Regions from separate parts of the Homo sapiens genome. Here region 2 is linked to region 1. Evidence: fine-mapped expression QTL. A gene starts in region 1. The other region holds a variant in brackets. All regions are shown on one strand. Distances are from middle to middle. Region 1 holds the start of ALOX5 (arachidonate 5-lipoxygenase). Region 2 overlaps ALOX5 (arachidonate 5-lipoxygenase).

Region 1 (14,787 bases):
CAGCTGGAGATCTGAGAACGGGCAGACTGCCTCCTCAAGTGGGTCCCTGACCCCTGACCCCCGAGCAGCCTAACTGGGAGGCATCCCCGAGCAGAGGCAGACTGACACCTCACACAGCCGGGTACTCCAACAGACCTGCAGCTGAGGGTCCTGTCTGTTAGAAGGAAAACTAACAAACAGAAGGACATCCACACCAAAAACCCATCTGTACATCACCATCATCAAAGACCAAAAGTAGATAAAACCACAAAGATGGGGAAAAAACAGAGCAGAAAAACTAGAAACTCTAAAAGGCAAAGCGCCTCTCCTCCTCCAAAGGAATGCAGTTCCTCACCAGGAATGGAACAAAGCTGGACGGAGAATGACTTTGACGAGCTGAGAGAAGAAGGCTTCAGATGATCAAATTACTCCGAACTACGGGAGGACATTCAAACCAAAGGCAAAGAAGTTGAAAACGTTCAAAAAATTTAGAAGAATGTATAACTAGAATAACCAATACAGAGAAGTGCTTAAAGGAGCTGATGGAGCTGAAAACCAAGGCTCGAGAACTACGTGAAGACTCAGGAGCCGATGCGATCAACTGGAAGAAAGGGTATCAGCGATGGAAGATGAAATGAATGAAATGAAGTGAGAAGGAAAGTTTAGAGAAAAAAGAATAAAAAGAAATGAACAAAGCCTCCAAGAAATATGGGACTATGTGAAAAGACCAAATCTACATCTGATTGGCGTACCTGAAAGTGACGGGGAGAATGGAACCAAGTTGGAAAACACTCTGCAGGATATTATCCAGGAGAACTTCCCCAATCTAGCAAGGCAGGCCAACATTCAGATTCAGGAAATACAGAGAACGCCACAAAGATACTCCTCGAGAAGAGCAACACCAAGACACATAATTGTCAGATTCACCAAAGTTGAAATGAAGGGAACAATGTTAAGGGCAGCCAGAGAGAAAGGTCGGGTTACCCTCAAAGGGAAGCCCATCAGACTAACAGCGGATCTCTCGGCAGAAACTCTACAAGCCAGAAGAGAGTGGTGGCCAATATTCAACATTCTTAAGGAAAAGAATTTTCAAACCAGAATTTCATATACAGCCAAACTAAGCTTCATAAGTGAAGGAGAAATAAAATCCTTTACAGACAAGCAAATGCTGAGAAATTTTGTCACCACCAGGCCTGCCCTAAAAGAGCTCCTGAAGGAAGTGCTAAACATGGAAAGGAACAACCGGTACCAGCCGCTGCAAAATCATGCCAAAATGTAAAGACCATCGAGGCTAGGAAGAAACTGCATCAACTAACGAGCAAAACAACCTGCTAACATCATAATGACAGGATCAAATTCACACATAACAATATTAACTTTACATGTAAATGGACTAAATGCTGCAATTAAAAGACACAGACTGGCAAATTGCATAAAGATTCAAGACCCATCAGTGTGCTGTATTCAGGAAACCCATCTCACGGGCAGAGACACACATAGGCTCAAAATAAAGGGATGGAGGAAGACCTACCAAGCAAATGGAAAACAAAAAAAAGGCAGGGGTTGCAATCCTAGTCTCTGATAAAACAGACTTTAAACCAACACAGATCAAAAGAGACAAAGAAGGCCATTACTTAATGGTAAAGGGATCAATTCAACAAGAAGAGCTAACAATCCTAAATATATATGCACCCAATACAGGAGCACCCAGATTCATAAAGCAAGTCCTGAGTGACCTACAAAGAGACTTAGACTACCACACATTAATAATGGGAAACTTTAACACCCCACTGTCAACATTAGACAGATCAACAAGACAGAAAGTCAACAAGGATACCCAGGAATTGAACTCAGCTCTGCACCAAGCAGACCTAATAGACATCTACAGAACTCTCCACCCCAAATCAACAGAATATACATTTTTTTCAGCACCACACCATACCTATTTCAAAATTGACCACATACTTGGAAGTAAAGCTCTCCTCAGCAAATGTAAAAGAACAGAAATTATAACAAACTGTCTCTCTAACCACAGTGCAATCAAACTACAACTCAGGATGAAGAAACTCACTCAAAACTGCTCAACTACATGGAAACTGAACAACCTGCTCCTGAATGACTACTGGGTACACAACGAAATGAAGGCAGAAATAAAGATGTTCTTTGAAACCAATGAGAACAAAGACACAACATACCAGAAATTCTGGGATGCATTCAAAGCAGTGTGTAGAGGGAAATTTGTAGCACTAAATGCCCACAAGAGAAAGCAGGAAAGATCCAAAATTGACACCCTAACATCACAATTAAAAGAACTAGAAAAGCAAGAGCAAACACATTCAAAAGCTAGCAGAAGGCAAGAAATAACTAAAATCAGAGCAGAACTGAAGGAAACAGAGACAAAAAAAACCCTTCAAAAATTAATGAATCCAGGAGCTGGTTTTTTGAAAGGATCAACAAAATTGATAGACCGCTAGCAAGAATAATAAAGAAAAAAAGAGAGAAGAATCAAATAGATGCAATAAAAAATGATAAAGGGGATATCACCACCGATCCCACAGAAATAAAAACTATCATCAGAGAATACTACAAACACCTCTATGCAAATAAACTAGAAAATCTAGAAGAAATGGATAAATTCCTCGACACATACACTCTCCCAAGACTAAACCAGGAAGAAGTTGAATCTCTGAATAGACCAATAACAGGAGCTGAAATTGTGGCAATAATCAATAGCTTACCAACCAAAAAGAGTCCAGGACCAGATGGATTCACAGCCGAATTTTACCAGAGGTACAAGGAGGAACTGGTACCATTCCTTCTGAAACTATTCCAATCAATAGAAAAAGAGGGAATCCTCCCTAACTCATTTTATGAGGCCAGCATCATCCTGATACCAAAGCCGGGCAGAGACAAAACCAAAAAAGAGGATTTTAGACCAATATCCTTGAGGAACATTGATGCCAAAATCCTCAATAAAATACTGGCAAACCAAATCCAGCAGCACATCAAAAAGCTTATCCACCATGATCAAGTAGGCTTCATCCCTAGGATGCAAGGCTTGTTCAACATATGCAAATCAATAAATGTAATCCAGCATATAAACAGAACCAAAGACAAAAACCACATGATTATCTCAATAGATGCAGAAAAGGCCTTTGACAAAATTCAACAACACTTCATGTTAAAAACTCTCAATAAATTAGGTATTGCTGGGACGTATCTCAAAATAATAAGAGCTATCTATGTCAAACCCACAGCCAATATCATACTGAATGGGCAAAAACTGGAAGCATTCCCTTTGAAAATTGGCACAAGACAGGGATGCCCTCTCTCACCACTCCTATTCAACATAGTGCTGGAAGATCTGTCCAGGGCAATCAGGCAGGAGAAGGAAATAAAGGGTATTCAATTAGGAAAAGAGGAAGTCAAATTGTCCCTGTTTGCAGATGACATGATTTTATATCTAGAAAACCCCATTGTCTCAGCCCAAAACCTCCTTAAGCTGATAAGCAACTTCAGCAAAGTCTCAGGATACAAAATCAATGTACAAAAATCACAAGCATTCTTATACACCAACAACAGACAAACAGAGAGCCAAATCATGAGTGAACTCCCATTCACAATTGCTTCAAAGAGAATAAAATACCTAGGAATCCACCTTACAAGGGATGTGAAGCACCTCTTCAAGGAGAACTACAAACCACTGCTCAACGAAATAAAAGAGGATACAAACAAATGGAAGAACATTCCATGCTCATGGGTAGGAAGAATCAATATTGTGAAAATGGCCATACTGCCCAAGGTAATTTACAGATTCAATGCCATCCCCATCAAGCTACCAATTACTTTCTTCACATAATTGGAAAAAACTACTTTAAAGTTCATATGGAACCAAAAAAGAGCCCGCATCACCAAGTCAATCCTGAGCCAAAAGAACAAGGCTGGAGGCATCACACTACCTGACTTCAAGCTATACTACAAGGCTACAGTAACCAAAACAGCTTGGTACTGTTACCAAAACAGAGATATAGATCAATGGAACAGAACAGAGCCCTCAGAAATAATGCTGCATATCGACAACTGTCTGATCTTTGACAAACCTGAGAAAAACAAGAAATGGGGAAAGGATTCCCTATTTAATAAATGGTGCTGGGAAAACTGGCTAGCCATATGTAGAAAGATGAAACTGGATCCCTTCCTTACACCTTATACAAAAATTAATTCAAGATGGATTAAAGACTTAAATGTCAGACCTAAAACCATAAAAACCCTAGAAGAAAACCTAGGCATTACCATTCAGGACATAGGCATGGGCAAGGACTTCATGTCTAAAACACCAAAAGCAATGGCAACAAAAGCCAAAATTGACAAATGGGATCTAATTAAACTAAAGAGCTTCTGCACAGCAAAAGAAACTACCATCAGAGTGAATAGGCAACCTACAGAATGGGAGAAAATTTTTGCAATCTACTCATCTGACAAAGGGCTAATATTCAGAATCTACAAAGAACTTAAACAAATGTTCAAGAAAAAAACAACCCCATCAAAAAGTGGGCAAAATACATGAAAAGACACTTCTCAAAAGAAGACATTTATGCAGCCAACAGACACATGAAAAAATGCTCATCATCACTGGCCATCAGAGAAATGCAAATCAAAACCACAATGAGATACCATCTCACACCAGTTAGAATGACGATCATTAAAGTCAGGAAACAACAGATGCTGGAGAGGACATGGAGAAATAGGAATGCTTTTACACTGTTGGTGGGGGTGTAAATTAGTTCAATCATTGTTGAAGACAGTGTGGCAATTCCTCAAGGATCTAGAACTAGAAATACCATTTGACCCAGCAATCCCATTACTGGGTATATACCGAAAAGATTACAAATGGTGCAACTATAAAGACACATGCACACGAATGTTTATTGTGGCACTATTCACAATAGCAAAGACTTCTAACAAACCCAGATGTCCATCAATGATAGACTGGATTAAGAAAATGTGGCACATATACACCATGGAATACTATGCAGCCATAAAAAAGGATGAGTTCATGTCCTTTTCAGGGACATGGATGAAGCTGGAAACCATCATTCTCAGCAAACTATGACAAGGACAGAAAACCAAACACCGCATGTTCTCACTCATAGATGGGAACTGAACAATGAGAACACTTGGACACAGGGCAGGGAACATCACACACCAGGGCCTGTTGGGGGGTGGTGGACTGGGGGAGAGATAGCATTAGGAGAAATACCTAATGTAAATGATGAGTTGATGGATGCAGCAAACCAACAGGGCACATCTATACCTATGTAAGAAACCTGCACTTTGTGCACAGGTACCCTAGAACTTGAAGTATAATAAAAATGAAAAAAAGAAAATGTTACTAGCAAATTGTAGATGGGTATACCTAATATAACTCTGCATGTGCACTATGTGTCTGGATACACATGGAAAGTATTCAGGCATACACACCAAATTGTTAAAATAAATCCCCTTCCAACATTAGGAGTGGCTGGGGAGCAGATGGCTTTCACTTCCGCACATTCCATGGTGCCAGGGTAATACCACATCACAATAGTAAATAGCAAAAATAACAACCTTAAGTTTAGATTTTCTTATCTAAATTTTAATTCTGTGAAGAAGTTTCCATTTCCCTTTTTCACACAGGATAGTAGAATGCAGTTTAGAAAGAGTGAGATCACTTGTTAGACTGTACAATTTTTAAGCATCAGCGAAGTATACCATTAAACTTCTCTATCAATCCATTCTCTAAACTTCCCAACCCAAAAAAAAAGAAACACATAAAATTGAAATGAAGAAAACAATACAAAAGATCAACAAAAATGAAAGGTTGGCTTTTTAAAGAGATAAACAAAATTGACAAATGTTTAGCCAGACTAAGAAAAAGAGAAGGCCCAAATAAATAAAATCAGAGATGAAAAAGCAGACATTATAACTGATACTGCGGAAATTCAAAGGATCATTAATGGCTACTATGAGCAACTGTATGCCAAACATTGGAAAATATTGAAGAAATAGATAAATTCGTAGACACACGCAACCTAACAAGATTCAACCATGAAGAAATTCAAAATCTGAACAGACCAAAAACAAGTAACAAGATCAAAGCCATAATTAAAATTTTCCCAGCAAAGAAAAGCCTGAGACCCAATGGCTTCACTGCTGAATTCTATCAAACATTTAAAGAACTAATACCAATCCTACTCAAACTATTCCAAAAAGTAGAAGAGGAGGGAATATTTCCAAACTTATTCTATGAGGCCATTACTGCTCCTATATCAAAACCAAGGACACATCAAAAAAAGAAAACTATAGGCCAATATCTCACATGAATATTGATGAATCCTCAAAAAATGCTAGCAAACTGAATTCAACATCACATTAAAAATCATTCATTATGACCAAATGGGATTTATCCCAGGGATGCAAATATGGTTCAACATATACACATCAGTCAGTGTAACATATCATATCAACAGAATGAAGAAGAAAAACCATATGGTCATGTTAATTGATGCTGAAAAAGTATTTGAGAGAATTAAACATCTCTTCATGACAAAAACCCTCAAAAACACTGGAGACAGAAGGAACATACCTCAACACAATAAACAGACATATATGACAGACTCACAGCTAGAATCATACTAAATGGGGAGAAACTGAAAGTCATTCCTCTAAGATCTGGAACAAGACAAGGATGCTCATTTTCACCAGTGTTAGTGGAACATAGTACTGAAAGTCCTAGCTAGAACAGACTAGAGACAGAAATAAGGGGCATCCAAACTGGGAAGAGAGAAGTCAAATTACCTTTGTTCGCAGATGGTATGATCTTCTGTTTGGAAAAACCTAGACTCCATAAAAAAATGATTAGAACTGATAAATTCAGTAAAGTTTCAGGATACAAAATTAACATACAAAAATCAGTAGCATTTCTATATGTCAATAGCAAACAATCTGAAAATGAAATCAAGGAAGTAATCCCATTTCCCATTTGCAATAGCTATAAATAAAATTAATATAATCTCATCTCTTCAATAAGTGGTGTTGGGAAAACTGCATATCCACATACAAAAGAATAAAATTAGACCCTTTTAATATACAAAACTGGACCCAAGTTAATATACAAAAATTAACTTGAAATGAATTAAAGACTTAAATGTAAGATCTGAAACCAAAAACTCCTAGAGAGAAACATAGGGGAAAAGCTCCTTGACGTTGGCCTTGGCAATAATTTTTTGGGATATTACACCAAAAGCACAGACTTTTGAAAAAATAAACAAGTAGGACTACATCAAACTAAAAAGCTTCTGCATGGCAAAAGAAAGTCAACAACATGAAAAGGCAACCTACAGAATGGAGGGAAATATTTGCAAACCATATACCTGATGAGAAGTTAATATCAAAATATAGAAAATATATAAGGAACTCACATATCTCAATACCAAAAAAATAATAACCTGTTTTATAATGGGCAAAGGACCTGAATAGACATTTTTTCAAAGAAGACACACAGATGGCCAACGAGTGCAGGAAAAAGCGTTCAACATCACTAATCATCAGGGAAATGCAAATCAAAACCACAATGAGATATCACTCCACACCTGTTAGGAAAGCTATTATGAAAAACACAAGAGACAATGAATATTGGCAAGGGCATGGAGAAAAAAGAACCCTTGTACACTGTTGGTAGAAATGTAAATTGCAACAGCCTTTATGGAAAATAGAATGGAGGTTCCTCAAAAAATAAAAATAGAACTACCATACAATCTAGCAATTCCACTTATGAGTGTACATCCAAAGGAATCAAATCACTATGTCAAAGAGATATCTGTACTTCCTTGTTTATTGCAGCTTTACTCACAGTAGCCAAGATAAGGAAAAAATCTAAATGTCCATCAACGGATAAAGAAAATGGGGGGAGGGGTGTGCATGTATACATACACAATGGACTATTTTTCAGCCATAACAAAGAAGGAAACCCTGCCATTTGTGACGATATGAATGAACCCAGAGGACATTATGTTAAGTGAAATAAGCCAGACACAGAAATACAAATATTGTATGATCTCATTTATATGCGAATCTAAAAATTTCAAACTTGAAGACGAATAAGTAGAACAGTATTTATCAGGAGCTAGGGGATGTGGGGAAGAAGCAAAATATTGGGCAAAGAGTATAAACTTTCAGTTATGAGATGAAGGCCAGGTGCGATGGCTCATGTTGGTAATCCCAATACTTTGGAAGGCTGAGGCAGAGGGATTGCTTGAGACCAGCCTAGGCAAGAAAGTGAGACCTCATCTCTACAAAAAATAAAAATAAAAGAATCAGCTGGGAGTGGTGGCATACACCTGTAGTCCCAGCTAGTCAGGAGGCTGAGGGGGGAGGATCATTTGAAATTGGAAAGTCAAGGCTGCAGTCAGCCAAGATAGTGCCACTGCATTGCAGCCTGGGTGACAGAGCGAAACCCTGTCTCAAAAAAAAAAAAAAAAAAAAGATGAATAAGTTCTGGGGATCAAATGTACAGCATGGTGACTATAGTTTATAACTGCGTTATTACTTGAAATTGGATAAGAGCAGATTTTAAGCATCCCCAGCACCCCCCCAACATACACACACACAAATGGTAACTATAGGTGGTGATAGATATGTTAATTTGACTGTGACAATCAGCATTCAATATATACATATATCAAATCATCACATTTTACCCCTTGAAATAGAAACTTTGATTTGTCAATCAAATATTTTAAAACGAAAATAATCATAATATTAATATAGCATACAGGAAAAAATTTCGTATCTCGACTGATACAGAAAATTTCATGATAAAAACACTTTAAAACAAAAGAAATAAAAGGGAACTCCCTCAACCTGATAAATGGCATCTGTGGAAACCCCCAGCTAGCATCAAACTTAATACAGAAAGGCTGGGTGTTCACCTCTTGAACCAGGAACAAGACAAAGATGCCTGCTTTTGCCACTTCCATTTGACCTTGTACTGAGGTTCTGGCTAGGGCAATTATCCCTGAAAAAGAAATAAAAGGCTTCCAAATAAAAGAAGAAGTAAAACTATCTCTACTCGCTCATGACATGATCTTGCATATAGAAAATGTGCACATGTACACACACACAAACCATTAGAACTAATAAACAAGTTCAGCAAGTTTGCAGAATATAAAATGAATGTACAAAAATCAAGTGTTTTTCTATATACTAGCAATTAACAATCTCAAAATGAATTAAAATTCCATTTACAATAGTATCAAACATAAATTATTTAGAAATAAAAAGTGCACTGAAAACTACAAAATATTTTGAAATAAATCAGAAAAGATTTAAGTAAATGGATCACTTGAACCTGGGAAGCAGAGGTTGCAGTGTGCCGAGATTGTACCACTGCACTTTAGCCTGGGCAACAGAGGGAGACTCCAAAGAGTCGAAAAGAAAAGAAAAGATTTAAATAAGCTGAAACATATTCTATGGATCAGAAGACTTAATATTGTTAAAGTGACAATATTCCCCAAATTGATCTACAGCTTCAACTCAACCCCTATCAAAATCCTAGCTTGCTTTTTGGCTGAAATTGACAAGCTGATTCTATAATTTATATGGAATCTCAAAGGATCCAGAATAACCAAAACAATATTGAAAAATAAAGAACAGCGTTGGTGGATTAACATTTTCCAATTTCAAAACTTACTATAGCACTGCGGTAATCAAGCAGTGTGGCACTGTATAGCATGTACATTACAGATCAGTGGACTAGAATCAATGTCCAGAAATAAACCGTTATGTTTATAATGAATTACTTTTTAATAAGGTGTCAAGACAACGCAATGGGAAAAGAATAATGAATTCAACAAATGATGCATGGACAACCGGACATGCACATGCAACACAATGAATTTGAATTCTTCTATCGCTCCATGCATAAAAACTAACTCAAAATGGGTCACGGATGTAAATGAAAAGCTAAAACTATAATAATCCTAGAGGAAAACCTAGGAGTAAATCTTTAAGATGTTATTGTAGGCAGTGGTTTCTCAGATAGGACCCCAAAATCACAAGCGACAAAAGAAATTGGACTTAAAGTTAAATACTTTTGTGCTTCAAACATCATCAAGAAAGTGAAAACACAACCCGCAGAAGCAATAAAAATGTCTGTAAGTCATGTATCCGATTAGAGACTTCTATCCAGGATATATAAATAATGCAATTCAATGATAAAAAAGATAAATAGCCCAGTTTTCCAAAGAGTCAAGCATCTGAATATACATCTCTCCAAAAATATACAGATATCCAACAAGCATGTGAAAAGATGTTCAAAGCCATTTGCCAGGTGCACAAACCCAAGACAGTATGAGGAGATGCTACAGGGACTCTGCTGCTTCACAGACATGAAGCGTTGGTGAGAATGTAGGCAGCCGCCTTTGGGGACTTCACATCCCCGCCGCCCCACGCACGGTGAGCTAGTGTTTAAACTTAGCCGAGATCAATACACGCGACTGTGTGCCCGTCAGACCCTGCGCTGCCGGCGGGGCTGGGAGAGGCGGGCGCCAGGAGTGGGCGGGAACCTGGGGGTCAGGCCCCAGCCGCGGGAAGCCGCCCAGGAGCGCGCGAAACCTTCTCCACACCCTTCCAGGCATTTGCCCGCCGCGATTCAGAGAGCCGACCCGTGACCCCTGGCCTCCCCTAGACAGCCCCGCATGTCCAGATGTGCCGTCCCGCCTGCCTCCCGCGACCACTGGCCATCTCTGGGCCTGGGCGCGGTCTCGGCGCCCGCCTGCCCCCGCCAGGAGCCGCAGGTCCAGCCAGTGAAGAAGCCCGCGCTGAAGGAGCCTCTGTGCTCCAGAATCCATCCTCAGTATCAGCGCTGGGGTGGCCTCCTCCAGGAAGCCCTTCTGATTCTCTCATGGGTCGCTCTTCCTCTGCAGACTCCCGGAGCACCCCTGCTCCAAGTACCGCAAGTGGCACTGAGAACTTGGGGAGAGCAGAGGCTGTGCCTAGATTTGTAGGGAGTCCCCGCAGCTCCACCCCAGGGCCTACAGGAGCCTGGCCTTGGGCGAAGCCGAGGCAGGCAGGCAGGGCAAAGGGTGGAAGCAATTCAGGAGAGAACGAGTGAACGAATGGATGAGGGGTGGCAGCCGAGGTTGCCCCAGTCCCCTGGCTGCAGGAACAGACACCTCGCTGAGGAGAGACCCAGGAGCGAGGCCCCTGCCCCGCCCGAGGCGAGGTCCCGCCCAGTCGGCGCCGCGTGAAGAGTGGGAGAGAAGTACTGCGGGGGCGGGGGCGGGGGCGGGGGCGGGGGCGGGGGCAGCCGGGAGCCTGGAGCCAGACCGGGGCGGGGCCGGGACCGGGGCCAGGGACCAGTGGTGGGAGGAGGCTGCGGCGCTAGATGCGGACACCTGGACCGCCGCGCCGAGGCTCCCGGCGCTCGCTGCTCCCGCGGCCCGCGCCATGCCCTCCTACACGGTCACCGTGGCCACTGGCAGCCAGTGGTTCGCCGGCACTGACGACTACATCTACCTCAGCCTCGTGGGCTCGGCGGGCTGCAGCGAGAAGCACCTGCTGGACAAGCCCTTCTACAACGACTTCGAGCGTGGCGCGGTGAGCGCGGGCGGGGCACGGGTGGAGCGCGGGCTGAGGTGCGTCCGGGACCCGGTTTGGACGGCAGAGGCCTGGGCGGGGGCGCCGAGGGCCCGTCGGGGCGGCCCGGACAGGACTGGGGGTGTCCAGGACCCTGTCAGGGAGGGCAGAACTGCGGTGGGGCGTGCCCTGGGCTCCCAGTGGCCGGTGGGTACCCTGGTGGGCAAGCGTCCAGGACCCCTCGCGGCGGCCGCGACCCCTGTCGGAAACGGAGACTTCCCGCGTGCCGCCTGCAAGGCGTCTTCCCTGGGAGGAGAAGGCCCAAGGTTTCCCCTCCACTTCAAGATCTGGGCTCCGAGGCTCCGGAGCCCCCTTCACTGGGCCGCGTTTCTTGTGCCACCTCTTCCTTAGGCTCCTTCTGCAGGTCGCACAGGGAGGGAGAGGCAGATGAGTCATGCTCACAGAACTCTGAGGGCACCTCGGAGCAGCCAGCTGTGAGCCGTGGGGAAGGGTGCACGTCAGCGGGTCCAGAGGCCTGAGTTCTGTCCAGACATGACCACCAGCTCACTCTACCGTCTGTCTGGGCCTCAGTTTCCCCAGCTGAAAATGGAGGGTTGGCTTCAGTCTGGTCCATGAGTCATGGGTGAGCCCAGGCCCATCTGGTGGCTCAGACGGCACCTGGGCAGCTTACATTCTCAGGACAGTCCCCAGAGGAAATTAAAGGGAAGGAACAGAACCCAGGCCAGGAGAGGCTTTTCCTAAATGGAGGGGCTGCACTCCCTCCCAGCAGAATGTACACCAGGGAACACTTCCACGCTAGGTGTGAGGACGCGAGGGAGCCCTCAGCATTTGGAAGCTAGTTCCTAATGCTGATCTGGACCTGAATTCCAGCCCCACGACTCTTTTCCATGAGCATGGGCAGGTCGCAGTTCTCACTGAGCCTTTAATGAAGTGCCTAATCCAGTACCTGGCACAGAGGAAGCGCTCCGTAAATGACTGGTAATAGTCCCAGACATACTGCAGGTGCGCAGGGAATATCAGTTCCCTTCCACCCCACCCCAGCTCCTAACTGGACCAAAAAGATTTAGACTTTACCAAGCTGCCTTCTCACCATTTAGTTTATTATTTGATCAAACCTTGTGAAATTGCTCATAATGGACAAATACAACCGGCAAGTTCATGTTTCAACTGATTACTCTTGGATAAAATTTGTGTTTTAGGTGTGCAGAGCCTAAAGTAAGTAAAAACTACTCTTTTTCTGGATTCCAAGCTCTCCATGGGCTCGATTCCTATCCAGGAGCCCATACCCTCGCTGTAGCACGACATGGCCCTCAGCCAAGTTCACTAGCATCCTGGCTTGAGCTCCCTTCAAGAAGAGTTAGGTGTTGAGTACAAGAGCAACCTTCAGTTGCTTAGTTGCCCCAGTCGGGGAACTGACCCTGAGGACTGCGGTGCCCTGGAGTTAATGTGTCGTCCATTTAGGGTGATGGCACCCTCTGCCATTTCTGACGCACCTTCATTTACTTCCATTATTTCATGGATTCCCCACACCTGGGGGAGAAGGACAGGGTACAGGCTACTTCCCCTTTGTAAGTGCTTCCTCCTCCCCATTCTCCTCCACACATCATAAGGTTCTAGAAGCACAGGCCATTGGTGTGCTCACACTGCACAGCACGGGCACCCCGTGTGTGCTTTCCTCCTGCAGGGGACATGATAACGTGGCCATAGCGGGCTCTTCGGACAAAGAGTGAAGGCACTGTTTTGTCCACTATCTCCCTCTCTCGGTCTGTCTTCCCCTACCCTGAGAAGTCATTCAAATGACATTATAATTAAACACCTCAGCCGGAATCCCAGGGGCAAATTTCAGGAGAGATTTGCATGTCACATTTCCATTGGGTTGAGAGGGCTATAAGTCAGGGGTGGGGCGGGGGGTGGTTGGGGGTGGGGGCTACCGCAGGGTGGGGAACCAGCTAAGGCTGAAAGTTTCCTTGAAAAAATCAGCTTTTGAGAAAGTTCCTGTTGATGCAAAGTTACTCAACACTTTCTCTTGCCCAGCCCAGAACTACTTCCTCATTCTCCCAGCTTGGTATCTGTAAAGACAATCATCCTTTTTGGGTAAAGGTAAAAGAGAAACCCTAGAGGAAGTACTTGCTGAGAAGACAAGGTTATCCCATTTTACAGGGAAAAGTGTTAAAATCTGTATTGTTAACAGTAGTAACGATAACAATAACAATAAAGGTATTTCCACACAATTTAATCATTTCCAAGTTATTGGCAGGTCAACACCCCCCTCCTCCAGGGCATAGTTCAGTCAAATAATGGACAGGACTGATTTTTTCCTTGATAAAGTGAGTCACAGGTCCCTTGTTATTCTCATCAGAGTTCCGCATAGTGATTCAGTCAGGACTGGGAATCAAGTCCTTCGCAGGTGGGATTATCCTATAAACGGTTGTGTCTTCCTTGGCTCCTCACTGTCTGCTGGAGAAAGCCGGGATCCTACACAGAATGGCCCTGTTTCCAGAGGCTAACCCAAGTCTAGGCAAATTTAACAAGTTGATTTATTTCTTTAACTCTGTAAATTTAAAGTAATTCAGATCGGATACGATAACTGTAACAGATCTGAAGATTTCTGAGAAATCTTAGTTGGCCCATTTCATTCTGTGCTGGTACTTTTAAGAAAGCTAAGGGCAATAGCGTGGTGTTTAATATATGATACTTGAATATGTTCAACAAGTGTAGAAAAGTGTTATAATGATTCATGCTTCTTAAGTCAGTGAGTATTCTTACATTCATGAAAAATTAATTCTAGAATACCTCCTTCTTGTGAATGGGAATATATTAGTGGAGCATAAATATTTCTTTGGTATGACCCTCAATCCGTCTCTCATCTCCCAGTCTCCCCCTCTGAGCCATCTTTTCCCTACATTCTGCCCCCTCTTCTGCCTCCTCTTCCTTCCCCTGCTCCCAGTTCCCTAAATGCCCCCCGTTTCTGCTCTCTACCCTACAACTCTCCCTTCTTTTTTGCTCTGAATTTTCCTCTACACTCTGTCTTCCAGCCACCTCTCAGAGGCCCCTTCTCTGCTCCCTCAATCTCCGGCTCTCTGTCCCACATTTTCCCCCTTCTCTGCCCCTTGGTCTCCCTATCCACTACCCCAATCCCTCTCTCCGTCCCTTGTTTTCCTCAGCTCTTCC
Region 2 (8,000 bases), 50 kb after region 1:
GATGATGAATGGATGGATGAAGGGAAGGAGGAAGGATGGAAGAAGAGGTGGATGGGGGATGGATGGAGAGATAGATGAGAAATTGATATACGGATGGATGGATTCATGGATGGTGGATGGATGGATGGATGACAGATAGTGAGATGGATGGATGGATAGATGGGTGGATGGATTGATGGGTGGATGGTGAATGGATGGTGGATGGATGGAAGTATAGACAGAGAGATGGATGGATAGATGGATGGATGGATGGATGGAGGAATTAATGGTGGAGTGAAGGCCAGACTGTGCCTTTCTTATCTCTGTTCAGTGTTTCTGAAGGTCATTGTCATCTCTGTATCTCAGGAGCCTCTGTATCTTAGCAGCTGTCACAGAATAGGTGCTCATTAAATCCTATTAAAATGAAAGTGTGACCCACCTGGCCCCTGAGTGCCCCTGAGTGCCAGCTGGGTCACAGTCCATTTTAACAGGGTTTAATGAGCACCTATCCTGTGGTATAGAAGGTAACTGTGCACCTCCTTTTCATGTATCCCCATCATGGCTAACAACAGCCTAGACATATGGTTCTCAATCCTGTGTGTTTAGTGTTACAGACTCCATGCTGCCCACTCTGCACAAACTGTGGAACCAGGGGAAGTCCAGCACAGTTATATTTTAGGGCTACTGGTGGATTCCAGTGTATAGCCAGGATTAAGAACACTGGCCTGTAATGCCTTTCTGGGCCTCCCCACCCCCCACATATGGTTGCATCTATTTGCTGAGTCAAGTCCATCTGCTGGGTCCCAGGGAGTGCCTCCTCCTCTCCCAGCTCCACCATCTCTCCTGAGTGAGGGCAGGAGCATCTTTCCAGCTGCCTCCCTGGGCTCCATCTCTCAAGACAGTGGGAGGGCTTATTCTCAAGTGCTTGTATAATTTGTTGGAGGCTCGCTCTAAAAAGTAAATATAATTTCTTGGTTGGCTCAATTGCAGGTGAGAGCCCAGATGTCTCTGCCCAGAAATGGAGATACATCCATAGGGACGCACCCGCCCCTGCCATCTCTCAGGTCCTACATGCATAGGATGCTCCACCGTGGGGAGCCAGCAGGGCTTTGCAGAGCATCTCTTGTCTCTGACCTAGCTGTTTCCTTTGCCACACCCACCCTCCCCACTTCTTGGCCAAGACATGGGTGAGGGGCCCCTTCTTGCAGAAGCTTCTAGAAGCCTCTGGCCCCAGTGAGGTCCCCTCCCCTGTACTCCCCAGTGCCGCCCACCCTGCCCTTGGCCCCAGAAGTGCTGCAGCCCACGTTTCTCCACATCGTCCTGTCATTAGCCCCTTGAGTGATGGCCTATTGGCAGGAGCAGAGCGAAGGAATCCTGAGAGGGGCCCTTCTGCCCCTCCTGGCCCAGCAGGCTGGACAGTAAGCTTAGCCCCACTCTGAGCACCGCCTCTGTGCTGGCACAGTGGATGGAGACCCTTGAGTTCTGCGGGGGAGAGAAGAGGTGTCCCTGTATTTGAGGAGCTGAGCCAAGGGGGCTGGACCACAAGGAAGCAGCTTAGAGGAGCCTGTGTGGGGATGAGGGGTGCCTGGGAGAGGGCCCTGGGCCGGTGGGGGTTGGGGGGACCCTAGGAAAGTCGTCTAAGTTCCCTGAGCCTCGGTGTCCTCAAATGAACAATGAGACCCGGCCCCAGCTCCTCCCCAGGGTTGTGAGATTAAAATGGGATCGCACACATCAGCCCCTCAGGGAAGTTTCTCCCTAAAGACAGCCTTTGTCTTCTCCATTCTTGGTTCAGGCCCTCTGGGACCGCGTCTCCACCATCACACACCGGCCTAGGGCTGCACTCTTGGAAGGGCCCCTGCGCTTGCAGGGTGGGCAGGGGACCCTCGCTTCACCTGGGCGTCCTCTCTGATGGGGCCCAGGAAGGCTTTGCAGCCGGGGGCCATCTGACCAGGTCTTACTGGGCCCAGGCAGAGGTACGTGGGGCCTGGAGAATGGCACAGGGGGCTGCAGCGGAGAGAGACTGTGGGCACAGGTGTGGCGAGGCCAGGCCGCCGAGAGCCAAGTGGTTTGCGAAATTTCCTGGTGGTGTGGAGGGAGGAAAAGCTGATGTGTTCACCTCCCCACTCGCTGTTTGCAGCCTGGAAGACGATTGCAGGGGGTGGCAGGGCTGAAAAGACAATGTCCTCATTAAAGGAAATTGAGAAAGAGAGTTTCCTTCCCAGTGGGGCGGGACAGTGCAGAAATGCGGCCGGTCCTGGAAGAGGTGGGGGCGAGGGGTCGGGGGCTCACACGCCCTGCGATTTCCTCCCATGAGAATGGGCGGGGGCAGCTCCGGGAAGGGTGGCGGATGGAGCCGCCCTCTCCCCAGGACCACAGGGGCGCTTTCCAGTGAAGGCGCCGTAGGAAACGCCAGTCTGTGCCGCAGTGTACGTAGAGGCGCTATGAGCCCGAGTTTCCCACGTCCAGGGACAAACTGGGAGCCGTGACTGTCAGGCCGCGCGGAGGCTGCCCTGGCCGCCTTTGCGGTCAGGTGAAGGCGCAGAGGCAGGGAGGCCGGGCGAGCGCAGGCGGGCGGAGAGCAGACCACGCGGAAGAGGCCGAGAGAGAAAGCGGGGCACCCGGCCGGGGGGGTCATTTACAAGGGACGCTGGGCACGAAGGAGGCTGGGGCGAAGATGAGTCCAGGGGTTGGGTTGAGAGCGCTGCGCAGCCGGGCTGAGAAGAGAAGCTGACGAGTGACTCCCGACAAGGGACGGGGGAGAGGGAACCTGGGGGCAGGCAGAGGCCTAGGGGGTGGGCTCTGAGGGCAGCCACTCCCACCGGCCCTCCCCCAGCCCCGCAGGCCAGCCACATGCCCCGTGCTCCAGACGACCCAGCTACATGGATGGCAGCGTCCTGAAGGGGGATGATCGGTAGGGAGTGGGTGCGGAGGCTCACGCCTGTAATCCCAGTGTTCGGGGATTCCCGAGCGGGAGGATCGCTTGAGCCGGGGAGGTGGAAGCTGCAGTGATCTGCGCCACTGAACTCCCGCCTGGGCGGCAGAGTGAGACCCTGTTTCAAAAGGCACCAGGGGTGTAGGGAAGGAGCGATATCCCCCAGGCAAGGAAGGCTGCGGAGGGGCCAGGCCAGGAGAGAAGGGCCCTGAGCTCAGTGGACGGGCAGGGTGCCTGTGGAGGAAGGGAGGGACGTAGCAGCAGGAGGAAGGGTGAGGACCCAGGCTGGGGATCGGGAGAAGTGATGGCGGAGGAAAGAGAGGCCGGAAGAGGAGGGGGCCTGCTGGCCTGGCACTGGAAAGCAAAGCGTGGGTTTGTATATGGGAAGAAGACCACATCCCCTCTTATCGTCATCCCAACTCAGAAACCATTTGGCCCCAAGTCACCAAAGCACTCATAGGAACCACTTTTCCTGTGACACAAGTAGGATTCTCCCACTTTTAACTTCCCAAATGCTACCCGAAAGCCTCTGAAATCCTTGGAAATTTAAAAAATAATCCCCTTCTATTAACTGATGCCTATAAAACATATTGACTTTCATTAAATTTTGTTATGAAATCAGGGATGTGTCCCATTGTAAAATAAATTTGTTTGGAAAATGTAGGGTGGTATCCCATCTAAAAATCAGACGAGGCTAGAAAATTTCAATTTTATTTGCTAAGGTAGCATCATGTTGTTAAAAATGCATCATAAAATAAGACCAAGAGTTAATACAAAGCATGAAGTCATGTTTCCCTCAAAAAAATGATTTGTTCTGTAGTCAAATTAATTTGGAAAACATTGCAAACTCTTCAGCAGTGGTTCTCAAAGTATAGCTTG[C/T]GTCAGAATCCCCTGGGGCCCTTGCTAAAATCTGGATGGCTACACTCCCCGCCTAGAGTGGGTTAAACTCAGTGCCCACTGGCAGGAAACTGAAACTTGGCTGAAGTCACCGAGGAGGCCTTCCCCGTTAAACCTCTGGCTGGCGACAGCTTGGTTTCCTCGCCGCTGCTTCTGAGTAATTCTGGCACGCAGTTCCTCCTAGCCACCTGCTGTACCTGGAAGGGGGCCAGCCCTCCTCAGCAGGCTTTGCTCCTGCCCTGCACAGCACAACTGTGGCGTAAAAAATGGAAAAGCTGGTAGCAGAAGGAAAGAGCAGGGAGACAGAGGTTAGGTGAACCTCAATGGCCTCATTAAAGCAAATTGAGAAAGAGAGTTTCCTTCCCAGTGAGGCGGGACAGTGCAGAAATGCGGCCCGTCCTGGGAGAAGTAGGGGCGAGGGGTGGGGGGCTCACCGGGCACATGGCCAACAGCTGGTGCCCAGCCTGGGCCACAGTTTGGCACAGGAGAAAGCTGAAGATGCAGGAGAAAGCTAGGTCACTGCCCCTAGGCCAGGTGATCAAGGTGGCTGTTACCTGCCTGTGTGGCCTTGAAAAAGCCTGGTGCCCTCTCTGGCTTGCAGGGTCCTTCTTTTTACAAAAGCGGGTCTTCGAAGCCCTGAATATTCCAGTTATCTGTAAGGATATAGAAATATTTTGCCTCTAGATGACATGTAAATATGTTCCTCCTAACTCCACTTCTTCCTACATCTGTGGCTTCTTCTGAGAACTACCAGACCCACCCTGTTTTCAGAGTAAACCTCCTGTTTTGAGGTCAAACAGACCCAGCTGGGTAATTGGTGACTCACTCCTGGTTCCTCCAAAGAACAGGGGCAAGGGACCACCCGGGACCTCAGGTGCCCCAGCACAGGACCTCTTTCTGGGGCACCCTCTGGCACTGGGCCATCTTCAGGCCCTACAGGGCTCTCGGGGCCTGCGTAGGCCTCTCATCTCCCAGAAATAAGTTCTTTTCCCCACCCAGACTGACACCAGATGCTACAGTGAGGTTTACCCCTCCAGCTTGACAAGCATTCCTAGCCCAGAACACTCAGCTGACGAGGGGTGCTGGGGGAGGAAGGAGGCAGCAAGGCTGAAAGAAGCTTCTCTGGGTATTCCAGTGCCTGGCTGCTGGTCGTAGCCATGGTGAGACCACAGCAGCCTCCCTGGAAGCAAGCACCTGTGTAAAAGCCCCTCCTTCCCCACAAGGGGCTGGATCCAAGTGAAGAAGGTACCAGAAGGACTGGAAGATGATGCTGGTATTATTCGACAGCTCCAGGGTGCTGTAGCACTGAGCACCTACTGTATGCAGCCCATCACAAAGCCAGCCACACTGCCCAGGCTGTGCCATGGCAACTTCCAGCAGTACACCCTCTCGGTCACCTGCAGGCTCCTTGTTCATCCTGACACATGAGGAGAAAAAGACAGTACTCACAAAGGCCTCTAGCCTTGTGGCCCCAGGACCCTCTCCTGAGCATCATGGCCTCCTAGGAGACCCAGGGTAGCCAGGACAAAGGAGAGAAGCATTTGCTAAGCTAAGAAAGGATGGAAGGGGATTGCTGTTCTGCCTGGATGCACCCCTAGACCTGGCAGGGCAGGCAGGAGAGACCCCCAGTGTCTCTTGCTTATCCTAGGAGTTCCCCCCTGTGGTTGCTCCAGTTTGCTGCCTTCATGCATGTTCACAGGGTGATTCCCCTGAGACAACAGAGCTGGGATGTCACCAAGCCCTGTGTCCCATCAGCCAGGCTCTCCCCAGCCTCCATCCTCTCATTCTGCTGGATCAGGAGGATGTGGGGAGGTCCCTGACTCCCCAGCTTTCCCCATGACAAGGTGTGTGTCTACAGCTCAGACCCAGCCATGCTCCACCTGAGAAGTGGGTCCAGGCAGAGCACTGGGTCCTGGCCACCTAGGGCTGCCTCCTCAGGGGTGGGCAGGAAGGGGAGCCACTGGAGGAGTGCCCCGGGCACAGTCCCCTGCACCAGGTGAGGTCACCTCTTAGTCCATGAGGCGATGCTGCATGAGCCCCTCTGGACACTAGAAGGCCTGGGCTCAATGCTGAGTAAAGTGCAGGCATGACTGTGCCCTCAGCATGCATAGGGCAGCAGGCATAGATTCATACACGTGAGTTTGCACTTAAGCTGCAGTAAGAGCTACAGAGGAAATGAACAGAGACAGCATCACTCCAGTGAGCCCTCCAGATACACCCCATGTGCGCAGTAAGAGAATGGCATAGTCTATTGGGACAGCCACATCAAAATACCACAGACCAGATGGCTTAAACGGCAGATATTTGTCTCTCACAGGTCCGGAGGCTAGAAGTCCAAGATTAGGGTGCCAGCCAATCCACTTGCTGGTGAGGGCCCTCTTCCCAGCTTGCAGATGTCTCTGTGTTCCCACAGCATGGTCACGTGGCAGAGAGAGGGGGACAGGGCATGAATAAGCCCTCGGTGCCTTCCTCTTCTTACGAGGATGCTAATCCCATCACGGGTACCCCACCCTCGTGACCTCGTCTAACCCTAATCACCTCCCAAAGGCCCCATCTCCTAATGCCATCACACTGGGGGTCAGGGCTTCAACACATGAATTTGGGGAGCACAATTTAGTCCACAGCAGAAAAGAAAGGGGCACAGAGCATTCCAGCCTGAAGGAAACAGATGTGCAAAGGCCCAAGGCAAAGGCCTGAGCTCTGAGGGGCAACCAGAGTCAAGGCTGAAGAGTGGGCAGTGATTGAGCACTGACGGTGGAGAGGCAACAGGCTATCTTGTTAATCTCAGTCTTTTGTGTGCCAGAGAGAGAAACTGAGGCACAGTGTGTCATGGTGAACACTGGGCAGCACTCCCACGCTCCTGTCCTGCACTCTGCAGGGTTATGGAGGAAGCCTGGGAAGTCTCTCCCCTCTTTTCCACCTTTCCTGGACCCATCCCACACCCTGCCTCCTCCAGGAAGCCCTGGGGATTGCTCATACACTCACATCTCACTCCTTAGTACCTGCAGCCTGCATTCTGAATTTAGCAAGCTCTGGCCTTGGGTTTCTATTTTCTTGTCCTGTGCAGTGAGCATTTGGAAACTTCTCCTCAGCACCAAACACGGAGCCATTTAGCAGAAAATACATGAGTTTTCAAGTCAATTGAACTGTTCATCGCCCCAAAAGCCAGGCAACACGGTAGAGCAGCTGGATCTCTGTTCGTAGAAGCTTTCTCAGGGACTGGCCCACCGAGTGGGGGACTGCAAGTGCCCGATGAGTGAATGAATGAACACATGTGTGAATGGAATTCAAGGCACTGCAGGCTATTCTGGAGGGTACTGGCCTGTCTCTTCGACAGGTGAGGTGCAGTAGAACAGCATCCCGTATAGATGCCAGTTTCTGACCTGGTTCTGAAAAGCCAGTCACCTACCTCTGCAGAGCTGCCTGGAGGGGGCGGGGGTTGTGAGGACCCCTGAGAGCTTGGTGTGAAGGGGCTCTGCAGAGGGAGGCATGGCTAGTGTGCGCAAGGTGACCTCTCTCCTGGTCTGCAGGATGGAGAACCTGTTCATCAACCGCTTCATGCACATGTTCCAGTCTTCTTGGAATGACTTCGCCGACTTTGAGAAAATCTTTGTCAAGATCAGCAACACTATTTCTGGTGAGTGTGCCTCTGGGGGCCCAAGTGGTGCTGGGGACAGGGGATGCTGCTCTCCTGTCTGATACTTGCCGGGAAATTGACAAGGGCCTTCCTGCCTGCTGCAGCATGGGGGCCTCGCTGCCACCATGCCACCCTGGACAGCACCCCCTACACTCCACACCTTTTACCATCACTGTGGTCACCCTTGTGCCCAGAGGTTTCTCCTCCTCAGATATTCAAGCTCGAGCACCCTCAACCTCATTTCACTATCAAAAGTCTCAAAAGTATCAGAACTTTTTCTTGGCACAAATCAATCATTTGTGCTTCTGAACAGAGCAAAGGCAGAACTTGGCTTGTGTTTTAGGTATTTACACAAAAGCAACTTTGGGTTCCTTTGGACTAGGATGTGTTTGATGAGAGCACTAGCTTCATAGTGGCCAGTCATGGCATGGGAAGGACGTTAGGAAGGCAGGAATGGCTGGACAAGAAGAGGTGCTGAAATCAGGACATGGGGAACCAAACTTGGCAAACTGCCCCCAGGGACTCTCCTCCACGCCCTCCTTCTTCCATCCTGGA

Evidence for each region. PIP is the estimated chance that this variant, and not a neighbour inherited with it, causes the effect.
Region 2: its variant is fine-mapped to the expression of ALOX5 in whole blood (TOPMed, PIP above 0.99).

Annotation. Positions count from the first base shown.
Region 1 is chr10:45,362,814-45,377,600 of GRCh38, forward strand. It overlaps ALOX5 (arachidonate 5-lipoxygenase), which reads left to right and starts at 11,403. Exons shown (of 14, transcript NM_000698.5): 1 at 11,403-11,616. The coding sequence starts at 11,467. RefSeq lists enhancers at 11,171-11,781, 11,782-12,390.
Region 2 is chr10:45,416,703-45,424,702 of GRCh38, forward strand. ALOX5 (arachidonate 5-lipoxygenase) reads left to right here. Exons shown (of 14, transcript NM_000698.5): 5 at 7,339-7,445. Among named protein-coding and RNA genes, the nearest start is that of ALOX5, 46 kb to the left of the region's middle. RefSeq lists enhancers at 2,237-2,930, 2,931-3,622, 3,651-4,152. The variant C/T (reference allele first, on the strand shown) is at 3,791.